Regions from separate parts of the Homo sapiens genome. Here region 2 is linked to region 1. Evidence: fine-mapped expression QTL. A gene starts in region 1. The other region holds a variant in brackets. All regions are shown on one strand. Distances are from middle to middle. Region 1 holds the start of GLRX5 (glutaredoxin 5). Region 2 overlaps AK7 (adenylate kinase 7).

Region 1 (10,963 bases):
CAGATAAATCTTCCTAACAGGTTGGATACACAACAGCACTGCCTCCTTACTCTTTCTATTCTGCGATCTAGGGACCTTTTCAGGTCTCTGGAATGTAATAATTTGAGTTATAGAAACTATCTGCTGGTTAAAAAAAAAAGAAACACATAATACTACAAAACACTGCCATTAAACAGGCAGTTGGGGAAAATAAACAATTCTTTCATCACCTTTAACCAAAAGGCTTAACAAGTTTTACGATTACCACTTAATTCTCAATACCACTTTCCGGGAGATATGATTCAGGCCCATGTCCTTGTTATTAAATAAGGCTTGCAACAGAATGAAATCCAACAGGTGTATGACTTTCAAGGCACGCAGCCGAGGAGCTTGGCCCTCAATGCGAGAAAGCAGCGTGGGGACAAGAGGAACATAGCTTTCAGAAACAGCAGGCTATAGGCTTAGATTTTTTTTTATTAGATTTTTGGTTTTCTGTGTGTTTGTCTGTTTTTTTGAGTTGGAGTCTCGCTCTGTTGCCCAGGCTGGAGTATGCAGTGAAGTGGCGAGATCTCAGCTCACTGCAACCTCCGCCTCCTGGGTTACAGCAATTCTCCTGCCTCAGTCTCCAAGCAGCTGGGATTACAGGTGCCCGCTACCACGTCCGGCTAATTTTTTGTATTTTTAGTAGAGATGGGGTTTCGCCATGTTGGCCAGGCTGGTCTTGAACTCCTGACCTTAGGTGATCTGCCCGCCTTGGCCTTCCAAAGTGCTGGGATTACAGATGTGAGCCACCACGTCCAGCTATTAGATCTCTGGATTGAACTTTTGTCATTTTAATTTACAAAGCCCAAAAATCATCTGTGTATCTAGTATATATGCAGAGCCAGCAAAGATAACTGGGATAGTTGATTTTCTACAGGACTTGTTGGTGATGCTATGAATCAGCAGGAAAACAGAAATTGCATGTGAAGGCAACAAAACTTAGAGACACAAGTGCTAATGTCTATCAACATATTATATTAGAAAAAAACATAATTTGGAGACCAAAATGTCTGAGAACTGTTATCCTAGGGTTAATGTATGCTTCGAATGAATTCATGTATACACACAAAAATTTAACAAAAAAGTACAATCTATGCAAGATGATAACATTTGGGGGTAAATATTTATGAGCAGAGAAAGTACACACAGATTTCTTACAACGCTGCAGCCTTTATATGAAGAAATTCTTCAATTATATACAAACTTCGGCAGACATCAATTTGGATTTTTCCAAAATCCAGAAAGGGGAAAATAGATGTGGAAAAATCTGAGGAAAATCAAAAAGAACTCAAGTACTCAGCGACGTTTAAGACCAGAACCCAGGACTACACCTCCACCCAAATTCCAGGACAAAACTGGGTTGTCATGGCATCTGGGCTTTTCATAAATGCTCACCTATCTCCCACGGTCTATTCTAGACTGAACTAACCAGATCTACAGCATGCCCTTTCTCTTCAGTGACCCAGTGACTCAGGGCAGGTGAAGGGAGCAGGACTTGTGTGACACAGTGGAGGCTGGCCTGCCTTCCTGTCTCCAAGATGTGGGCGGCAGGGATGAGCAAAGCCTCGGCCAAAGAAGTATTAATAAACCAGCTGCCTTGTCAGATAGAGGTAGTCGAAATCCAACAAGCATTTCTATCTCCACAATAGGGACTAGAAAAATTCTGAGGGCTGCATTTTGCTTCAGTTTCTTATACATTACATTATTTTTGGTGTTATCAGGGAATCCAGGTAGTTCCAGGGTTGCAGTGATGCTCTAAAACTACTAGATGATAGCTCAGTGCATCACAGAGGAAGCTTTCAGGTTCCAGCTCAGGTCAATAGAATCTGCTATTTTAGCTTAGGAATGCGTGGTGGTTCGGCCCCTTGTACAATCCAAGCAGCCATTTTGCCCTTAATATGACATTTGCAGAATGTTCTGGCCAGCTCAGATAGACACTTCTGTACCACACGTTCTCATGCAAACACACCCTCTCATTTTCTAAGAACAAACAAGAATGCAGCACTGAGCATAAAATGAACAGGGCCAGTGCGGCGGCTCACACCTGTAACCCTAGCACTTTGGGAGGGCAAGGCGGGAGGAGTATTCGAGACCAGGTGTTGGAGACCAGTCTGGGCAACCTACTGAGACCTCATCTTTTTAAAAAATAATTTTTTAAAAAAGTAAAGGTACAGAAACACTGACATGTGGAGTGCTCAGATAAAGCATCACCTTCAGTTCAATAATCTGAACTCTAGTTCTTCATTTGGGGCTGATAAACGGAAGAAGCTATCTCAGATATGTGGAGGTTTACACGATGAATTCAATGGCGAATTTGTTTTTGGAGAAGTGGATAGAAAACAGGAGTTCTACCAAATATAGTAAAGCCTTATCTATAAATAAACACAAGGAAGAAAAACATTTTTAGGATGCCTGAGTCAGCATGTTTACACGGCATGATTATTTAGTTTGGGGTTTAACCAATCCTGTGACTCAAATCCCAGGATTCTCAGAAGTTCCTGAGTACTTCCCACCCTCACCTCTTCACTAATGTTCACGAGGCAGGAAGCCATCACATGCTAAGACAGGCCATTTACTCAAAACACCCAAAACATCTGGTCATAGATGCAGACTGATGACAACTGTTTATTTAAGATGTATATTTTGTCATGTTTTCATCATAGGACTAAAGAGGAATCTCAAAACCAAAATGCCAAACTTTATGCAAAAGTCTGATACTTTGGACGAAGTATTTTGAATACTGTTTTCTTTGCTTCTTAAGATCACTGATGTTTGGTGCTAAGTATTTCACTATATTTTGGGTTGTTTTATTAAAAATTTAAATTTAGATGTATTGTTTCAATTTCTTTGGTTCAGATACATGATCTGTTTCCTGCCCTTGCTCATGCTATCAAAATAGCTCCTTGAAAGAGCACCAACATGCTTTTCCATATCCTTAGCATTTCACACACTGTATGTTCTTATCATATTCTACAAAAACACGGCAACTTCACTATGATTTAGCAAAACACAGGCTTTGTACTCTTCCTTCTCAAGGATTACTCTTAATCTTTAATGGCAGCTGCATTCTCAACTTAATACAACGTTCAACAAATAAAAAAGACAACTGCTTCTGAGCCCAATATTATACATTAGGTAAGGAACACGATACTCCTCATTACTGTTCTGTCTCAGGATATAAGTTTGCAAATTCTTCTCCTGATCTCAGTCAACATAAAAGCAGAATTACAGTTTAGAGTGGGCAATGAGAAAGGTGGAATCAAAATAGACACAGGGAAGGCCATAAAGAGTTCGCAAGCATAAATGCCTGATAGCAAAAACGATCACAGAAGATTCCAAAACCACAATCCTGCACAAAGGCCATCTCAATCTTACACAAAAAATACTTCTGCAATGCCTGCCGAGCACCTGCCTGTCCAACCTGGGACTGGTGTCACCTTTGTTACTGATCCTTGTAGTCAAAAATAATTATCTCAAAACAATTATGTAACCCTCCTCATTTTTCCTTTAAAGACCTTTGTCTTCCTCTATCTCCCAGGATACACACAGTTAACTATCGCATGCATTTTCTCATTGCAGTGCTCTATTCCTGAATAAATGCCATTTTCTTTTAGAGAGCCTCTCTCTGTTCGTTATTTAAGTTGACAGCAACAAACAGTTTAGGTTTTTGGCAACAAATCACCAATATTTACTTAAAAACAAACAAAACACTTACAACACAGGTAGGAACAACAGGTTATTTTGGAAAGAGTTTAATATATTCTCTATTGTTAAGTGCACCAGATGCTGGACTTCTGAAACAACAATTATGCTTCTGCATAATAGCTTTTTCTACATATTTCTGTTCATGTTGCTTGTTCCTCTGATTTACCTGGAATCAATGAATCTGAAAAACAAAAAGATTCTTTAAGCACCTGGTAAATTTCAGGTCCCACATTAGAAAATGAGCAATCATCAATAATATTGATGGGGGTGAAAATATGACATTGAGACTTTCGGGTAATGTGCCGAGTTTACTTTCATAGTTTACTAGGCTCAGGTTTCATGCCGAAGGATTATTTGAAAGACTCACTCACTGACATGATTTTCTGATTTTAAATTCGAACACTCTCAAAGCATAAACAGATCACCTCCAGCAACATTGTAAAAAAATACTCAAAGTTTAAAAAAAAAAAAGTAACTTGTGGCAGTACTTAGTGTTCAACAGAAAACACTCCATCTGCTAAACAATATCTCGACTGCAAAGCTTCTCTTACTGTTGGCGGATAGATAATGACATAGCCCAGTCATTATCACCGTGGCAACAGTGACCAGAAACTATCAGAGGAAAATTGCACATGGAACAGCTGGCTCTCGAGCAGGCATGCCTCAGCTTCCTCTGGAGTATGCTTTTTCTGCAAGTCTGGTGTGCTCGAGGGTACCACCAACCCTGTGCGGCTCCAAGACTACAGATTATGTAGCAAGTCCACTGGTCCTGCTCTTCCGGATTTATTCTTCCCGCCAATAGGAGCACTTACCACGTTCCAAGCATCGTCCTAGGCACTGAGGATACAGCAGTGAATAAAACTGAGTGCTGGGTAGGAAGTCAATAACCAAGCTAGTAAATAACTGTATATTGTCAAGCACTGGTAAGTACAAGGGAGAGCAGAGCAAGCAATGGGCCTGATGAGGCTTGCTTTGTCTCCTCTGCACTCCCACACTGCTTTGTATCTGCTTCTCATTTCTCACGATGGGTCCAAGCTTTGGGCACCAGGTCTCCCTGGACATTCCGCGCTGGCACTGCGCCTAGCACCCAGCGGCTGCTCAGGAAACGTTTGTCGAACGAACGAATTCACTTCTTAGTTCCCCATTCAACAAACCTTTCCTGATCCTAGGCCCAACAGGTTAAAAGGCTGGAGGGCCAACGAGGCTGGAAACTCAGAGGCGGCCGGGGGCGGTGGCTCACGCCTGTAATCCCAGCACTTTAAGAGGCCGAGGCAGGAGGATCCCTTGAAGCCAGGAGTTCGAGACCAGCCTGGGCAAAAAAGTGAGACATCGACCCCCCGCCCCCGCCGCCAATTCCGTCTCTACAAAAAGGAAGAAAAAAAAAAAAAACCCAGAGGAAATCACACAGGCAAAAGCGCTTTACAAATTTTAAAAATGAAAACTGTTCTAGAGAAATAATCGCGCGCCGGAGGCGGAAGCCCCAGAGCCTCAGCTCCCACGTGGCGGCGGAGCCAGGGAAAGTCCAGGAGCCAAGGCTACGGCCCGAGCGCTGGAACCCCGGTCAGGCTCCGGCTCCCCGCCACGACGAACTGCATGCGGCCGCGGCGCTCCGGAGGCGCCCGGGGACGCTCACCTAAGCTGGGAGAGGCGGATACCCGCCCGGCCTAGCCCCGCTACCTCCCAAGAGACCAACACGACAAGCGCGCGCCCACCGCATTGCCATGGCAATTCAACCGCCGCTGACACCGGAACCGGAAACTTCATCAGGAGGTGACCCCTTCCCGGCGTTCCGCGGAACGGGCGAGTCCCGCGCCTCTCCCAGTTGTCTCGGCGTAGTCCAGCTGGCCTCATTGGCTCACAGGAGGAAAGTCGTCTTCCCTCTTGTTTTGCCTCTCGTTGCCCTGCAAGCGTGACCCTGATGGACATCCAGTCTCTCCAATTAACTAACAAAGCGGTTGCCGACGACCAATAGTAAGGCAGTAGGATGAGGCTCCGGCATAAGGCCCACCTCCTACCTGCCGGGCGGGACGAGCAACATGATTGGTGGAATCGAGTAATTACTGATCAGTATTGTCCAATCACGGAGGGCAGTTTAGAGCCGGCCCAATGAGGGCCTCCAGGGGGCGGGTCGGACTGCCGCGGGCCGGGGAGCGCTCTGGGTGGCCAGCTGTGGGCCCGGGCCGTCGTGGGCTCCGGCTTGCGTGCGGAGATGAGCGGGTCCCTCGGCCGAGCTGCGGCGGCTCTGCTCCGCTGGGGGCGCGGCGCGGGCGGCGGTGGCCTTTGGGGTCCGGGCGTGCGGGCGGCGGGCTCGGGCGCGGGCGGCGGCGGCTCGGCGGAGCAGTTGGACGCGCTGGTGAAGAAGGACAAGGTGGTGGTCTTCCTCAAGGGGACGCCGGAGCAGCCCCAGTGCGGCTTCAGCAACGCCGTGGTGCAGATCCTGCGGCTGCACGGCGTCCGCGATTACGCGGCCTACAACGTGCTGGACGACCCGGAGCTCCGACAAGGTCAGGCCAGTGTGCCGGGCAGGCGCCCTCCGCCCCGGGCCCAGGAGCATCGCTGCACGAGGCCGAGGGGTTCCGCCGCGCCGGGCTGGGGAGCGGGGCTCCATCCGCCGGGGTCTGTCTGAAGGTTCGAGCCGGGTTAGGGCGAGGAGTACTGCCCTGGAGTAGAGTCTGGGCTGAGGGTGTAGTTGATTTCACTGGGTCTTGAGGATCTGGGGCTCTGTACTGTTGCCAACTTGAGCAGTAGGTAAAGTCCTAAAGGTTCACTTATCCTCACTTCGAGCTAATATAGGCGTTTCGGGGCGATTTGTCAATGACTGACTCGGAGGAGGGTGGCCCGCTGCCTGACTGCTCTGCACGGTTAGGAAACTCATAGTAAGGACCCACTGTGAGATAGGTACTTTCGCGGACACTTTGGGGAGGTTGGAAGCCATTGGCCTACTCGTGGGTAAGGTCTAGGGCTGTCGATGGTGGGGAGAGGGCTGAGGTTGCCCTTGAGGCTAGTGAGGTCGGAGGCTGATCTCGCTTGGCTCACGGCTCAGGGTGTCAAGCATCATCCTCTGTGGTTGCTACAAGCAAAGGGTTGGGACAGCTGTCGGCTGACCTTAGTCGGGATCTATGTTGTCGGGGAAGAGTCATGACATTTGGCTTTAGATACTCAAGCACAGGGCTGAATTTATGTGGGCCAGGGCTTGGAGAGGTTTGTGGGGAAAAGAAGCAGCCCTGGCTCCTGGGCCCTGGGCTAACTCACTGGCTCAGCCTTGGAGCCCAGGGGGCCAGGGCACCAGGGACCAGATGGATTAGGCCGGGAGAGGGAAGGCTGCAGCTAATAAGCATCTTTTCCAAGTACTCCACGTGCATTCGCCAGTCTTATCTGAGTAGGGGAGGAGGAAGAGGCCAGGCACAAGGGCCTGCTCCTTGGCCAGGATGGTCAGGGTTGGTGGAAAACTGGGAAGGCTGTACCTTTTCCTTCTAGAGAGTGACTTAGGATACCTGCATCCCAGTTAGAGACTTTCAGTGACTGAGTCCCTGCATGTCCCTAGCTAAAAAGAGGTGCCAGTTGTGTGCTAAAAATAGGTGCCAGGTTCTCTGTTACTCTAAATTCGAAATTACTAATCATAGTCATTGCTTACAATGATGAGACAGGCTGGTGTTTGGAAAAGCTTTGGGTTGACATCCTCTTCTGTGGCTAATCAGGTGTAAAACTTAAGTCACTCACCTGCATTTGAGGATAATGAGACAATTTGGCAAAGTTTGTGTTAGGAAGCCAAAGTAAAAATTATAGAAAGTGTGTATTATTTTACCTGGCACAGAAAGCACCCGGTAAATGGTAGCTGGCTTCGTATTAGCACTTGATGGTTTTCAAATGTATTTTTTCCCAGATTATCTAGTCCTTAAAGACTCTTGGGGATAACTGATCCTCCATTTGCTGTAGGTGATAGTGGTGGTGGGTGGGACCTAGAAAGCATGTTGAGTTGAGGAGTCGAGAGGGCAGGTTCAAATTACCACGTATATGTAATATTACCATGTGTTATTCTCATGACCCTTTTGTCTTCCTTGTCAACTAGTATGCCACCAGTTACTGGGCTCAGTTTTATCATGTGCAAGGCAAGGGACCTGCAGTCTTCCTTCGAAGACAGCTTCTCTGCTTAAAAGAGGAGTAACTATTTTGCAGTCTTTTGACAGAGACCTTGCAGGGAGTCCCCTGCAAATTGCCAATATGGCACTAGTAAAAAAGTGGTGTTGTTATCTCGCTTAGTATCATGTTTCGAGGGTCTTTGGTTTGTGAATTTATTTTCTCTTGTTTAATATAACTGGAAATGAGATATGCTGGAATATAGCTAGTAAACGGAAAATAGGAGCAAAAATACGAATATGTACTGATAACATTTTATTTTTCTGTCTTTTATCCACGTCTGGTGTCTGGTTTCTGAGCTTACTTTCTTAAGTTTTCAAACAGCAGCGACAGGAATTTAACCCTTACATTCCTTGACCACTGAGTTTCATCAGATTGCTATTTTGGTTAATAAACGCGTTGCATATATATTGAATATAACATACCTCTTTTATTGATTAGAAAAGTAAAGATTAGTAAGTATTAACATTTGGACTGGGCAGGGTGGTAAAAGCACGTTCCCCAAATGGGGATTAGTTCAGCCAGGTTATTAAGACTCTTCCCCTCTTCCCTATACAGCTTTATTTACCAAGAGCAACTAACGGGCTGTCCGATGCTTGCTTTTGCCAGCCGAAACTATGTTTGTACACCAGATCCAAGGTCATTTCTAGTAATAGGAACGGAGCTCTTGCAAAACTGGCCTTTTGTTGGTTCTTATGCCAAGGAGACCTGAACTTTACAAAGTGCCTAAACCGGAGGAAAACATTCTTTCCTAGTTTTGAGTACTGGGTTCCCAGGAGTGTGATACAGACACATCTTGAGACTGTGACCCAAGGAACAAAGGTGACTATGAGGCAGCATTGTGTTCTGGCCTTCTCAAGACCTTCTTGTCCTTCTCTTTTTATCTGGAGTGCACACAGAAGACAGTCACAAAGGGATCAGGTCCCAGTAGACTGACATCATCATTTCCTAATCCTGGTCTTAATAAAGGAACTTATGCTCATGGAAGCAATGTAGAAAACACTGAAAAGTTTAAAGAAGGAAAATCACCTGTAATTTATGGAAACTATTGTATTAACATTTAGATCTAGTTCCTAACAGTTTTTTTTTTTTTAACACATTGAGACCATGCTTGTCTATACATAGTATTTTGCCCTCCAGAGACGAGGGAATATGTCTTATGCCACTGCCTGTGGTGCTGTGTGTACCGCTTATGCAAAGCAAGCTTTCAGTGAGCATTTTAATAAATAAATAAATACTGCTTTTATTTATCATTATATTGCAAACTCTGCGGCCTTAAAGGCATTATAAACATTTGCTGCCGATTTAGATCATCATTGTAGTCCTTGCATCTGGAACAGTGACAGAATAGGGACTCAAATGATTTGTTGAATAAATAACCATATCCTGTTGTTGAATGTTTATTAAGCATTTGAAAATACGCTCCACCTTTTCAGTATCAGGGAATTGAAGACAGTAGTGAAACATGTCATGCTGGTGAACCTTAAAAGTTGGATAACAAGTTGTGTGTATGTGCTTGTGTGGTGCACATGTATGCTGCAGATGGGAGTATAAAATGGTACCAACACTTTGGAGGAGTAACTATCAGTACCCAGTCAAGCTATGGGTGAACAGAGCCTAAGACCCAGCTGCGTGACTCCTAGGTATATATTCTAGAGAGGGGGATCTGCAAACTTACCCTAGTAAAGGGCCAGAGACTAAGTACGTCAGGCTTTGTGGGCTGTGTGGTTTTTGTTGCATCTATTCAACTCTGCTGTTATATAGCCTGAAGTCAGTCATGGGCAATATGTAGATGAATGAGCAGGCTGAGTTTCAATAAAACTTTATTTATGAAAATACAGCTTTAATTACGAAGTAGACTGGATTTGGCCTGAAGACCATAGTTTATCTGTCCCTGGCCTAGAGACTGACTTCTGCATGTGTGTGTTAGGACATGGGTCCCCAACCCCCAGGCCAGGGATCGAGGACTTACAGCAGGAGGTAAGCGGTGGGTAAGTGAGCTTTACCGCCTGAGCTCCGCCTCCTGCCACATCAGTGACGACATTAGGTTCTCATAGGAGCACAAACTCTATTGTGAACTGCACATGTGAGGAATCTAGGTTGTGCGTTCCTTACGAGAATGTAACTAATGCCTGATGATGTGAGGTGGAACCGTTTCATCCCGAAGCTATCCCCACCCTTCCCTGGTCCGTGGAAAAATTGTCTTCCACAAAACCAGTCCCTGGTGCCAAAAAGGTTGGGGACCTCTGTGTTAGGATACCTGTGTTGGCGCGTTCATTGCAGCATGGCTTGCAATAATGAAAAACTGACAGGAAGGGATCTTGGTCTATTAGCAGCAGACCAGATAAATAAACTTTAGTCACATGATGGAAAGCTAAACTGTAGTTAAAATGAACTAGATCTAGATGTATTTAACATGGCTGAATCTCAAAAATACAATATTTAGTCAAAAAGCAAGTTGCAAACACGTAATTATGGCATAATACCATTTGTATATGTAAATGTTAAAGGCATAAAACAGTCCCATATATTGCAGATATGTGTGCAGTGCACTTGTAGCTCCTGGGCAGGAGTGAGATGGCAGCTAGAGGGTAGAGGCCACCTCTGGTGAGGGACTCAGGTAGCATGTGGTTAAGAGTCTGGGCTTTTGTACTCCTGGAAGCCTGGATATAAATCCTGGTTTCACTGCGCTGTCACTGTGAGTTTCGGTAAGTTACTTAACCCTTCTGAGCCTTAGTTTCTTCATCTTATGTAAAGTAGGGATAATTGTACCTGCCTTGTCAGATTTTTGTAAAGATTAAATAAGATTATTTTTGTAAAACGCTTAAAGAGTATGAAACTCAGTAATCCTTAACTCAATAAATGGTATATATATATATATTTTTTTTTTTTTGAGAGAGTGTTACTCTGCTGCCTAGGCTGAAGTGCAGGGGGCAATCTCGGCTCACTGCCACCCCTGCCTCCCGGGTTCAAGCGATTCTCCTGCCTCAGCCTCCCAAGGAGCTGGGATTGCAGGCACCTGGCACCATGCCTGGCTAATTTTTTTTATTTTTAGTAGGGACAGGGTTTCACCATGTTGGCCAGGCTGGTCTTGAACTCC
Region 2 (10,963 bases), 910 kb after region 1:
GACTTTGGTTGAAAAACTGTCTTGGACTGTGGGAAGGCAGTTAACAGGTGTTTGGGGGCAAGAAATGAGCCCTTTAGGCTAAATTTTCAAATCAATTGACAGAAAGTTGTCCTTAAGTCTGTCTTACAATTTTTAAAATCTCTATTGTATTTGTGGTTAAGTCCTCCTTTTCAGGCCTAATATTTGTGAGGTGAGATCACTACCTTCCCACAAGAGCCTGAGTAACATTCTTCCTAAAAACTCCTGTAGGCCGGGCGCAGTGGCTTACACCTGTAATCCCAGCACTTTGGGAGGCCGAGGCAGGTGAATCACTTGAGGTCAGGAGTTCAAGACCAGCCTGGCCAACATGGGGAAACCCTGTCTCTATTAAAAGTACAAAAATTACCTGGGCATGGTGGTTCTCACCTGTAATCCCAGCTACTTGGGAGGCTGAGGCAGGAGAATCACTTGAACCCAGGAGGCCAAGGTTGCAGTGAGCCTAGATTATGCCACTGCACTCCAGCCTGGGCAACAAGTGAAACTCTGTCTCAAAACAAACAAACAAACAAACAAACAAAAAACTCCTGTCTTCTTGCACCATCCCCTGTTCGCCTGAAGAAGTTCAAGCGAGTTTTCTGATTGGTGGGTTTGAGGAGGGCCTGGCCATGTGAGCTTGGCCCCTCCTCCTTCCCTTCTCTCTGGGACTCCAGGGATGGTGGCTACTGTGCATTTCACCTTCCTCATGCCCTGAGACTTACAGCAGCAGGCCGCCATGTGGAGGAGTCCCTCGCTGTCCAGTGTGGCCTGGGACTGGTTGGAAAAGTTCATCTTATTCTGGATTCAGGGTTAGGAAGCTCATCATCATGGCTCACCTAAGGCATGGCCTCCAGCAGAACTCATATCAATAATAAAGATGGTATTTTGAGCTTATCTGGTTAAATATTGAGGCAGAGAGTAGAGGCTGAGAAGGGTAGTAGGGGGTGGGGGGAGGGAGGGATAGTGAATGAGTACAAAAAATGTTGGAAAGAATGAATAAGACCTACTATTTGATAGCACAGCAGGGAGACTATAGTCAGTAATAACTGAACTATAGATTTTTAAATAACTTAAAGAGTATAATTGGAGTGTTTGTAATTCAATGGATAAATGCTTGAAGGGATGGATACCCCATTCTCCATGTTGTGCTTATTTCACATTGCATGCCTGTATCAAAACATCTCATGCACCCCCATAAATCTATATACTTATTATGTACCCACAAATATTAAAAATTAAAAATAAAGGAATACTGACTCCAGTTCTTACAGTGCCTAAACTGCTTGTCCAGAGTGAAGTGGACAATCCATGTGAATTTCCATCCTTGTGTTAAGGCCCATTACCAGCTTCTTGGTTTCAGGTACTAGATCATTAAAGATCCTCGTGGAAAGACCTGTTTTTCTTTCTCTTTTCCCCCTCAGTGCCGAGCATAGAGCTTACAGGTACAAAGTTTTCACAAAAACCCTGGCTTTAATTTAATTAGGAGTCCTTGTTAAATTTTAATAGTAGTCAGAGGTATTCCTGAATAGTGCGGGGGTGTCGTTTCTCTCTTTAAGAGATAGGATTTGTATCCCGAACAATACTCAGTAACCTGCAAGAGTTGACGGAAGTTCTGAAAGTGCTCATTTTAACTACTAAAATAATCTGGTTCAGTATGACTAATAATATTACATCCAGCTTTTTTTTTCTGTATTTTATCTAATAGGCCAGAAAATTTGCAGCATACGTAGTTGCTGCTGGACTCCAGTATGGAGCGGAAGGAGGCATGTTACACACATTTTTTAAGGTATGGCTTTCAATGATGACGTGGAATGTTTAAAAGTGTCTTACGATACAGATACGCAATTTGAAGGTGTTTTTGATTGCTTTGGGTGTGGTTAGTGCAGTAGAATAGCAGAAGATGAAGGCAAGTATGGATGTCACCACAAAGACCTACGTTTCTTTCCCATTATTAACTTGTATTCACCACTCTCAAAATAATAATGAAAAAGACGTATCTCCTTTCATTCATGAAACAGATATTGATGTAGTGCCCATCAGGTGCTGGAAACTGTTGTAGGTACTTGGGATACAGTAAAATAATAAAGTCCCTCCTCTTGCGAAGCTTACATTCTAGGGGGATGGAGAAAGAGATAGATAATAAGCAAGCCGGTAAATGTTGAGTATTTCAGATGTTGAAACAGGGTATGGAAAACAACAGAGCAGAGAAAGGCAGAGAGTGCTGGGGAGTAAGGTTGCGGGGATTGGGGCTGTTATATCTTATATAGGAAGGTTGAGGAAGGTCTTTCCAACGATGTGACATTTGAGTAGGAAGGGAAAGGCAATGAAGGAGCTGGCTAATCGGCTTTCTGGAGAAAGACATCCCAGACAGTGAGAATTGTTACTGCAAAGAAGTGAGGCAGAAATGTGCTGGCTACATTTGAAGACCAATCTAGATCAATCTAGCTGAAGTATGGGAGAACAGCGGTAATGAGGTCAAAGCGGTAATGAGAGAGTCAGACCAAGCCCAGCCTGGTAGCCCCTCGTGAAGCTCTGGCTTTCTTTCTGAGTGAGTTGGACAACCATTAGACTGAGCACAGAAGCAACATAATCCATATGATATAAAAGGACAGCTTTCTCCTTCTGCTGTGCTGAGGATGTACTATTTGGGGCATGGGCAGGAGCAGGAAGCAAGGAAACCAGTGAGCAGGGTAGTGCCTAAGACCTGGGTGGGCATGGTGGGGATACTGGAAACTGTTCAGATTTCAGACGTATTTTGAAGAGAGAGTCAATGGGATTTGTTCAAAGCTTGGATGTAAGGATGACAGAAACATAGTAAAGGATAACTTTAAGGATTTTGGTCTAAGCAACTAGAAGTATGGCACTGCCACTTATTGAAATGGGGAAGACAGGGAATGGAGCTGGTTGGGGTACAATGCAATGAAAAGTTCAGGAAGTTTGAGATAATTAATATCCAAGTATAGATACTGGGAAGGCTATTGGACAAAAAGAGTTTGGTGATCATGGGGGAGGTCAGGTCTGGAGATATAATCATGGGAGCTGTCAGTATACAGTGGGTACTTAAATCCTTGGGACTGGATGACATCAACTACTGAATGAATATGGAGAAGAGATAGGGGCCTGAGGACTGAGTCTTGGAACCCTCCAATATTGGAGGTTATAGGGAAATGGGAAGGAATTAGGAAAGGAGGTTGAGAAGGGTGGGCAGGAAGCAGGAGAGGAAATAAGAGAAAAGTAAATAATTATTAAAAAAAATATTTTTGGCCGACTCACGCCTGTAATCCCGGCACTTTGGGAGGCCAAGGCAGGCGGATCACAAGGTCAGGAGATCAAGACTATCCTGGCTAACACGGAGAAACCCCGTCTCTACTAAAAATACAAAAAATTAGCCGGGCATGGTGGCGGGAGCCTGTGGTCCCAGCTACTCGTTAGGCTGAAGTAGGAGAATGGTGTGAACCGAGGAGGCGGAGCTTGCAGTGAGCCGAAATTGCACCACTGCACTCCAGCCTGGGTGACAGAGCGAGACTCCATCTCAAAAAAAAAAAAAAAAAAGTTTTTAAAAAGAAAGAATGACAAATTGTGTCAGATACTGCAGATAATCAACTAAGATGAAACCTACAAATTGACCGCTAAATTTTTTGGCACTAGGTAGGACAAAAGTCTAACAGCCGCAGGTTCAAGAGGAACAGCTGGAGGGGAATTGAAGACAATGAGAACAGAGAAATATTTCAAGGAATTTTCCTGTAAAAGGAGGGGGGTGCAAAGAAAGAAGGCGGAGTTAAAGGATAAAGTGTAGTCAAGAGAGGTTGGTTGAACTGATTTTTAATTTTTATTTGATTTATTTATTATGTATTTATTTATTTAAAGAAGGAGTCTTACTCTTTCACCCAGGCTGGAGTGCAGTGGTGCAATCTCAACTCACTGCAATCTCCACCTCCTGGGTTCAAGCAGTTCTCCTGCCTCAGCCTCCCGAGTAGCTGGGATTACAGGTGTGTGCCACCATGCCCAGCTAATTTTTGTATTTTTAGTAGAGACAGGGTTTCACCATATTGGCCAGGCTGGTCTTGAACTCCTGACTTCGTGATCCGCCCGCCTCAGCCTCCAAAGTGCTGGGATTACAGGCGTGAGCCACCGTGCCCGGCCTCGAACTGATTTTTTTAATACAAGAGATATGACAGTTGCAGAGGAGAAGCTCAAGGAAGCTCTTACTCATTGTCCATTCTCAGCTACTTCTCACCTACCTGCTCACTGAATCTTGGCATTCGCAGGCCTCGGCCCTAGACCTTTTTTCTTCACCCTCTGCTCTCTCTCCCTTGGTCTGTTTATTCCTATGACTGATACCAATGACTCAAACTTCAGTCTCCAGCGAGGCTCTCTCTCCTAAGTTCTAGCTCTGTAGGTCCAGCTGCCTACTCAGCACCTCAACTTGGATGTCTTTCCCAAATCCAAACTATACCTACAGTCATCCCCAAACCTGCTCCTCCTCCAAGGCCCCATCTCAGAAAATGGGGTAACCCTCCAACCAGCTACATGATCAGAATCCAACTCCTCCCTCCTTACTGCAAACCAAAAAGTTTCTGAGACAGGTCTCAATCAATTTAGAAGTTTATTGTGCCAAGGTTAAGGATGCACGCCCAGGAGATAGGCCTGTGCCTTTCTCCAAAGATGACTTTGAGTGCTTCAATATTTAAAGGGAAAAGGGTAGATATTAGAGAAAGAGGAAGAAATTTTTTAAAGATGTGGGTAAGCCAGGCATGGTGGCTGATGCCTATAATCCCAGTAAAGCACTTTCGGAGGCCAGTGTGAGTGGATGGCTTGAACCCAGGAGTTTGAGACCAGCCTGGGCAACATGGTGAAACCCTGCATCTGCAAAAAATAAATAAAAGGTGTGGGTAGATAAGAGGCAAGCGGGCACATTCTTTTGAGTCTTTGATCAGCTGTTCGACATGAGGGAAGGGTAGAGGAATAGTCACTTATGCATTTATCTAGCTCAGCGAATCTGCATTTTTATGTAAGATAAAATAGACATAGGGCCGAGGAAGCAATCAGATAGGCATTTGTGTCAGGTGAGCCTAGGGATGACTTTGAGTTCTGTCCTTGTCCTGTACCTGTGAAGATAAGCTGTCAATTTACATTGTCAGGGTGAAATTCAACAGAACTGTTTTCGGGTAAAGCTCTTGGGGCCTACAGATAATTTCATAGTGGGCAAATTGTGAGGAAGGTATGAGGCCAGGCATGGTGGTTCACGCCAGTAATCCCAGCATATTGGGAGGCTGAGGCGGGTAGATCACCTGAGGTCAGGAGTTCGAGACCAGCCTGGCCAACATGGTGAAATCCCATCTCTATTAAAAATACAAAAATTAGCCAGGTGTGGTGGCACATGCTTGTGATCCCAACTATTCGGGAAGCTGAGGCAGGAGAATCACTTAAACCTGGGAGGCAG[A/G]GGTTGCAGTGAGCTGAGATCCTGCCACTGCACTCCATCCAGCCTGGGTGACACAGCAAGACTCCGTCTCAAAAAAAAAAAAAAAAAAAAGAAAACAAAATAAAATCTTTGAATGAGAGACAGGTTTGCTTTATGTAGTTCCTAGCTTGACTTTTCCCTTTGGCTTAGTGATTTTGGGGTCCCAAGGTTTATTTTCCTTTCACATTACCCATCATAAAATTCCCAGTTACTACAGTCAGCCTCCTCAATGTCTCCCTTCTCTCCATCCCCACTCCCTGCACTTCCCACCTCCAGGCTAAGCTACCCTATTTCGCCTGCACACCTGCCATCACCCCTCTGTCCCCACTGGACTCTCCTTCCCGCCACTTCTCCACAAGGCAACAAAAGCAAGCCTGCTGGTGTCACATCACTGCTTAGAACCCTTCAATACTTTCTGAAAGTCCAAAATATCTTACAAGACCCAGTGGTCTACTGTGACCCCTACCCCTACCTCTTTCACTCTTAACAACAATTCAAAATAATCTAATATGTGACACTTAAACAGTACTCATCATGTCTGTTTGGTTACTGAAATACTTAATGAGAAGAAAAGATGAGGATTTGGACTCTGAGGATCGGGGTTCCAGTCCAAGCTCTCACAAGTGTATCCTCCTGCATGCTACTTATCCGCTAAGCATTTCACCCCTGGACTGATGGTACTTATTTCCCCTCACCTCATCCCTACTGGTGGGGGTAATTTTAAATTTTAATTTGTCTTTTTGTGAGAATTAAGACATCATGCATGTGAAAACATTTCTTCTCTATGTGAATGCCATGCGTATAGCTACTAAATACGGCTGAGAGGTTGTAGATTTCTTGAAAAGTATTTCAGTCCCAGGGCTACACATTATTTCTCTTGGCAGAATTTGATTCAGTCCCAGGGCTACACATTATTTCTCTTGGCAGAATTTGATTCAGTCCCAGGGCTACACACTATTTCTCTTGGCAGAATTTGATCCTAAATCTCATCAGGGCTGATTTATAAAACACCCCCTAGAGGAAATTACTTAAGCAGATAGCTAGGCCTTTCAGTTGCCTCTGACTGTAGACTTATGTGTGAGCTGTAATAGCCATCCACATATAACTGGGGGACATGATTTTGCTTTTCTTCCTTTCAGATGGCTTGGTTGGGCGAGATTCCTGCATTACCAGTTTTTGGCGATGGAACAAATGTAATTCCAACAATCCATGTTCTTGATCTAGCAGGGTAAGCATTCGCCCAGAGACGTGACCTTCACAGAATTGGTTAATGTGTTTGTTTGTAGCCTAATACTTTTTGAGCATTTGCCTAGTGCTAAGACCCTTACATGGATTATTGTGTTCATTCTTCGTAACAACCCTATGCAGAAGGTACCGTCTTCTCCATTTTGCATCTAATGAAATAGTGCCCACTGTTCAAAAGTTCTACATTTCTGGTGACAAGTTCAGGTTCATCTCTTAGAAACTATCGACAGAATAGCAATGCCCTCCAATTTTGGAAAAGAAAGAACTTGGTGTGTACATTCTGAGGACGTAGTTTCTTATTCCTTTGTCCCAGATGAGATTAATATGTCTAACCCGTCAACTTAAATTCTAGAATTCAAATGGAAAACTGTAAACCTGAAGCTTTTTCCTTCTTTGACAGTTGTAGGTAAAGTTGACATATGTTTTTTATACTCACAGAGCATCTAAACCCTGTATTCAGACAGGTCCAGAAACCCTTCTCTTCCTTTGAAGACCCTGACTTAAACGTGAGGTCAATGAGTTGGTTCACTGTGTTTGTGGTTCATCAGCTCCAGCTTCCGGGGACTTCATTCTGTCACCCCTGTGGCACATCCCCAGAAAGGAGCAATTTCTGCACTTCCCTGAGGTTCTGGTTTTCAGATTCCCACTCTTTCTCTCATCCACTGGCCACTAGTAAATTAGTCACAATCTCAGATAAATTTCTAGACTTACTGGGAAATGAAGGAAGTTTAAACTTCAGGGCCACACCCCTGAGCAGATCCCTTTCCAAGACCCTGAACCTAATTTTTATTATTTTTCTTAAAGAAGGATCCTATGAGTCAGGGATATCCAATCTTTCGGCTTCCCTGGGCCACATTGGAAGATTTGTCTTGGGCCACACATAAAATACACTAACACTAACGATAGCTGATGAGCTTTAAAAAAAATAACAAAAAAAACTCATAATTTTTTTTTTTGAGATGGAGTCTCACTCTGTTGCCCAGGCTGGAGTGCAGTGGCACAATCTCGGTTCACCGCAAGCTCTACCTCCCAGGTTCATGCCATTCTCCTGCCTCAGCCTCCCAAGTAGCTGGGACTACAGGCACCCGCCACCATGCCTGGCTAATTTTTTGTATTTTTTTAGTAGAGATGGGGTTTCACCATGTTAGCCAGGATGGTCTCCATCTCCTGACCTCATGATCCACCCGCCTCAGCCTCCCAAAGTGCTGGGATTACAGGCGTGAGCCACTGCGCCCGGCCCAAAAACTCATAATGTTTTAAGAAAGTTTACAAAGTGTGTTGGGCCACATTCAAAGCCATCCTGGGCCTCACGCAGCCCACAGGCCCTGGTTTGACAAGCTTGCTGTAAATGGGCTAAGCTTCAGGCACTACAAAACCCTGGATCTGCTCCATCCCTGGGGATGGAGGGGCCGAAACATACCCATTTTTTTCTGCAGAGATTTTACATTATGACATTACTGGGTTTCAAAGATACAGAAGAGTCTTTTACATTATTAATATAACTTACTTGGCATTAATCCTTAACATATTACGTCCAAACATAAATTAGAGGGTGAAATGATTGCCATTACAGAAGGACTTAGAGCCTGTTAAAAACAAGTTATAGGAGGCCATTGTTTTGGAGTAAGTTCTTGTACTAGGCCCCAACAGACCAGACTGAAAATCAAAATGGAGTCACCCATGCCAAAGTTCCAGTCACCAAACTGAAACTAAGCTGTTACCTGACCTTTCGAGAAAGCCAAAGAGAGCAACAACAGCTAATTTCCCAAACAAGCCAGTTTCAGTCTTCAATAGGCATGATAATAAAGCTCTCTGTGTTTTAATCCTTATGGCAAAAAGTAGCCTAAAGTAACCTGGTACTAACCTATCGGTTATCTTTCCTTTTTTTTTTTTTCCTTTTGAGATGGAGTCTCGCTCTGTCACCCAGGCTGGAGTGCGGTGCCACAACCTTGGCTCACTGCAACCTCCGCCTCCTGGGTTCAAGCGATTCTCCTGCCTCAGCCTCCCAAGTAGCTGGGACTACAGGCGCCGGCCACCACGCCTGGCTATTTTTTGTATTTTTAGTAGAGACAGGGTTTCACCATGTTGGTCAGGCTGGTCTCGAACTCCTGATCTCAGGTGATCCATCCGCCTCAGCCTTCCAAAGTGCTGGGATTACAGGCGTGAGCCACCACGCCCAGCCCCATTAGTTATCTTTATGTTGTTCTCCTTGTCCCTGCCTTACAAGGAAACTAACTTTGAAATGACCAATGTGCTTTTTGTTCTTTGTTTCTGCTTTCTGCAGCCCTTTCTGCCTATCAAACTACCCGCCTCTGCTCATTTCACTGACACACTTGTTCTATTTTATGGAATGAAATGTTGCCTGATTCTAGAATCACAAATAAAGTCCATTGAAATCTTTAACTAGATTTGTTATAATTTTGTCTTTTGACAGACCCTTTTAAGTAGCATTTTTTCCCCAGAGGTTTCTTTGAAGATTGTCAAATATTTAACAGAGGAAAAAGCAAAAAGCTGAAATGTTCTGAGAAATGGGTAGAAAATAGGCTAGGTGCAGTGGCTCATGCCTGTAATCCCAACACTGTGGGAGGCCAAGGTGGGAGGTTCGCCTGAGCCGAGGAGTTCGGGACCAGGCTGGACAACATAGTGAAACCCTGTCTCTACAAAAAATACAAAAATTAGTCGGGTTTGGTGGCTCATGCCTGCAGTCCCAGCTACCCGGGAGGTGGAGGCGGGAGGATCACTTGACCCTGGGAGTTTGAGGCTGCAGTGAACCGTGATAACACCACTGCCTGCCAGCCTGGGCAACAGAGCGAGACTCAAAATAAATAAATAAATGAGTGAATAAATAAATAAATATAGAAAAAAAGAAATGAATACAAAATAAATGTGAACTGCACATTTGGAAGCGTGCATTCGATTTATTTTCATTTTATTGAAAGGAAGCTAAGATGGAGGTAGAATTGACAAGCCATTGTGATAGACATCTATTCACTGTTGTTTCTCTCTGGAATTTAATTTTTGTTCCAATCCCTGCTCTGCTTCTCACTAGCTGTGTGAATTTAGGGAAGTTACTTACGGGGATAGGAGCAGCACCTACATGCTAGGGCTGTGAAAATTTAGTGGGATCACACCTGTGCCACCCTCAGCACAGAAGCAAGCGCTCGGAAACCTTGGCAACTGGGATAGGAAAGCAGGCTCAGGCACTGTTGCTGCGTGACTTCCTTAAAGAGCCACAGCTTGTCTAAATCTGTGTCTTACTTTGTAAAATACCTCCCTAAAGCATTGTTGTGAGGCTCACACGAGCCCCTAGATGGGGAGGGCTTCATAAACTGGGGTCCTGCTGGGGGCCGGTCCTGCTGGGGGCAGTTCCCCTTGTTGGGAGACAGGGCAGTATGCTAGAAAGAAGACAGGTCCAGAACCAGATGCATCTGACCTCAAAAGCTGGCTCTTCCACTTTCGCAATAGCTCTTCAGCCTGAGAAATGTCACCGAACCCTTTAGCATCTTCCTCATGTGGAGAATGCAGATAACCATCCCAACCCTGACCGTATTGAAAATGGAGATAACTTATCAAAGCACCAAACCCCACGCCCAGCCATGGGGGTGGTGGTCAGTGAATTCTAGTTTACTGCATCTCTTTCGCTTTTTCCCTTTGATGATTATTTTACCTGTGGGTCTGCAGAGTGATACAAAACGTCATAGATCACGTGCCAAAGCCTCACTACCTGGTTGCTGTGGATGAGTCTGTTCATACCCTGGAAGACATAGTCAAGGTACAGTGGTTTCATCCCATACTTTGATGACATATCGTAAATAGTTTTGCTGGCTGGGCGCGGTGGCTCATGCCTGTAATCCTAGCATTTTGGGAGTCCGAGGCGGGTGGATCACCTGAGGTCAGGAGCTCAAGACCAGCCTGACCAACATGATGAAACCCCATCTCTACTAAAATACAAAAATTAGCCGGGCATAATGGCGGGTGCCTGTAATCTCAGCTACTCGGGAGGCTGAGACAGGAGAATCGCTTGAACCCAGGAGACGGTGGTTGCAGTGAGCCAAGATTGTGCCACTGCACTCCAGCCTGGGCGGCTGAACAAGACTCCATCTCCAAAAAATAAAAAATAAAAAATTAAAATAAAAATAAATTAAAAAGTTTTGCCCCCAATCAGTTGTGCTAACAAAACTGGGACTCCTAAGAAGAATATCCGTAAAACCCAAACTCACTATCTGCATTTGCAGTATATAC

The links. PIP is the estimated chance that this variant, and not a neighbour inherited with it, causes the effect. A credible set is the group of variants that fine-mapping cannot tell apart.
Region 2: its variant is the best candidate, but not a certain one, in a credible set for the expression of GLRX5 in CD8 T cells (CEDAR, PIP 0.68).

The regions. Positions count from the first base shown.
Region 1 is chr14:95,529,155-95,540,117 of GRCh38, forward strand. It overlaps GLRX5 (glutaredoxin 5), which reads left to right and starts at 5,896. Exons shown (of 2, transcript NM_016417.3): 1 at 5,896-6,230. The coding sequence starts at 5,936. It overlaps SNHG10 (small nucleolar RNA host gene 10), which reads right to left and starts at 5,718. Exons shown (of 1, transcript NR_003138.3): 1 at 3,758-5,718. It also overlaps SCARNA13. RefSeq lists enhancers at 4,326-5,115, 5,116-5,905, 5,169-5,628 and silencers at 5,769-6,058, 6,269-6,328.
Region 2 is chr14:96,436,115-96,447,077 of GRCh38, forward strand. It overlaps AK7 (adenylate kinase 7), which reads left to right. Exons shown (of 18, transcript NM_152327.5): 6 at 1,721-1,801; 7 at 6,616-6,704; 8 at 10,403-10,493. Among named protein-coding and RNA genes, the nearest start is that of AK7, 49 kb to the left of the region's middle. The variant A/G (reference allele first, on the strand shown) is at 5,459.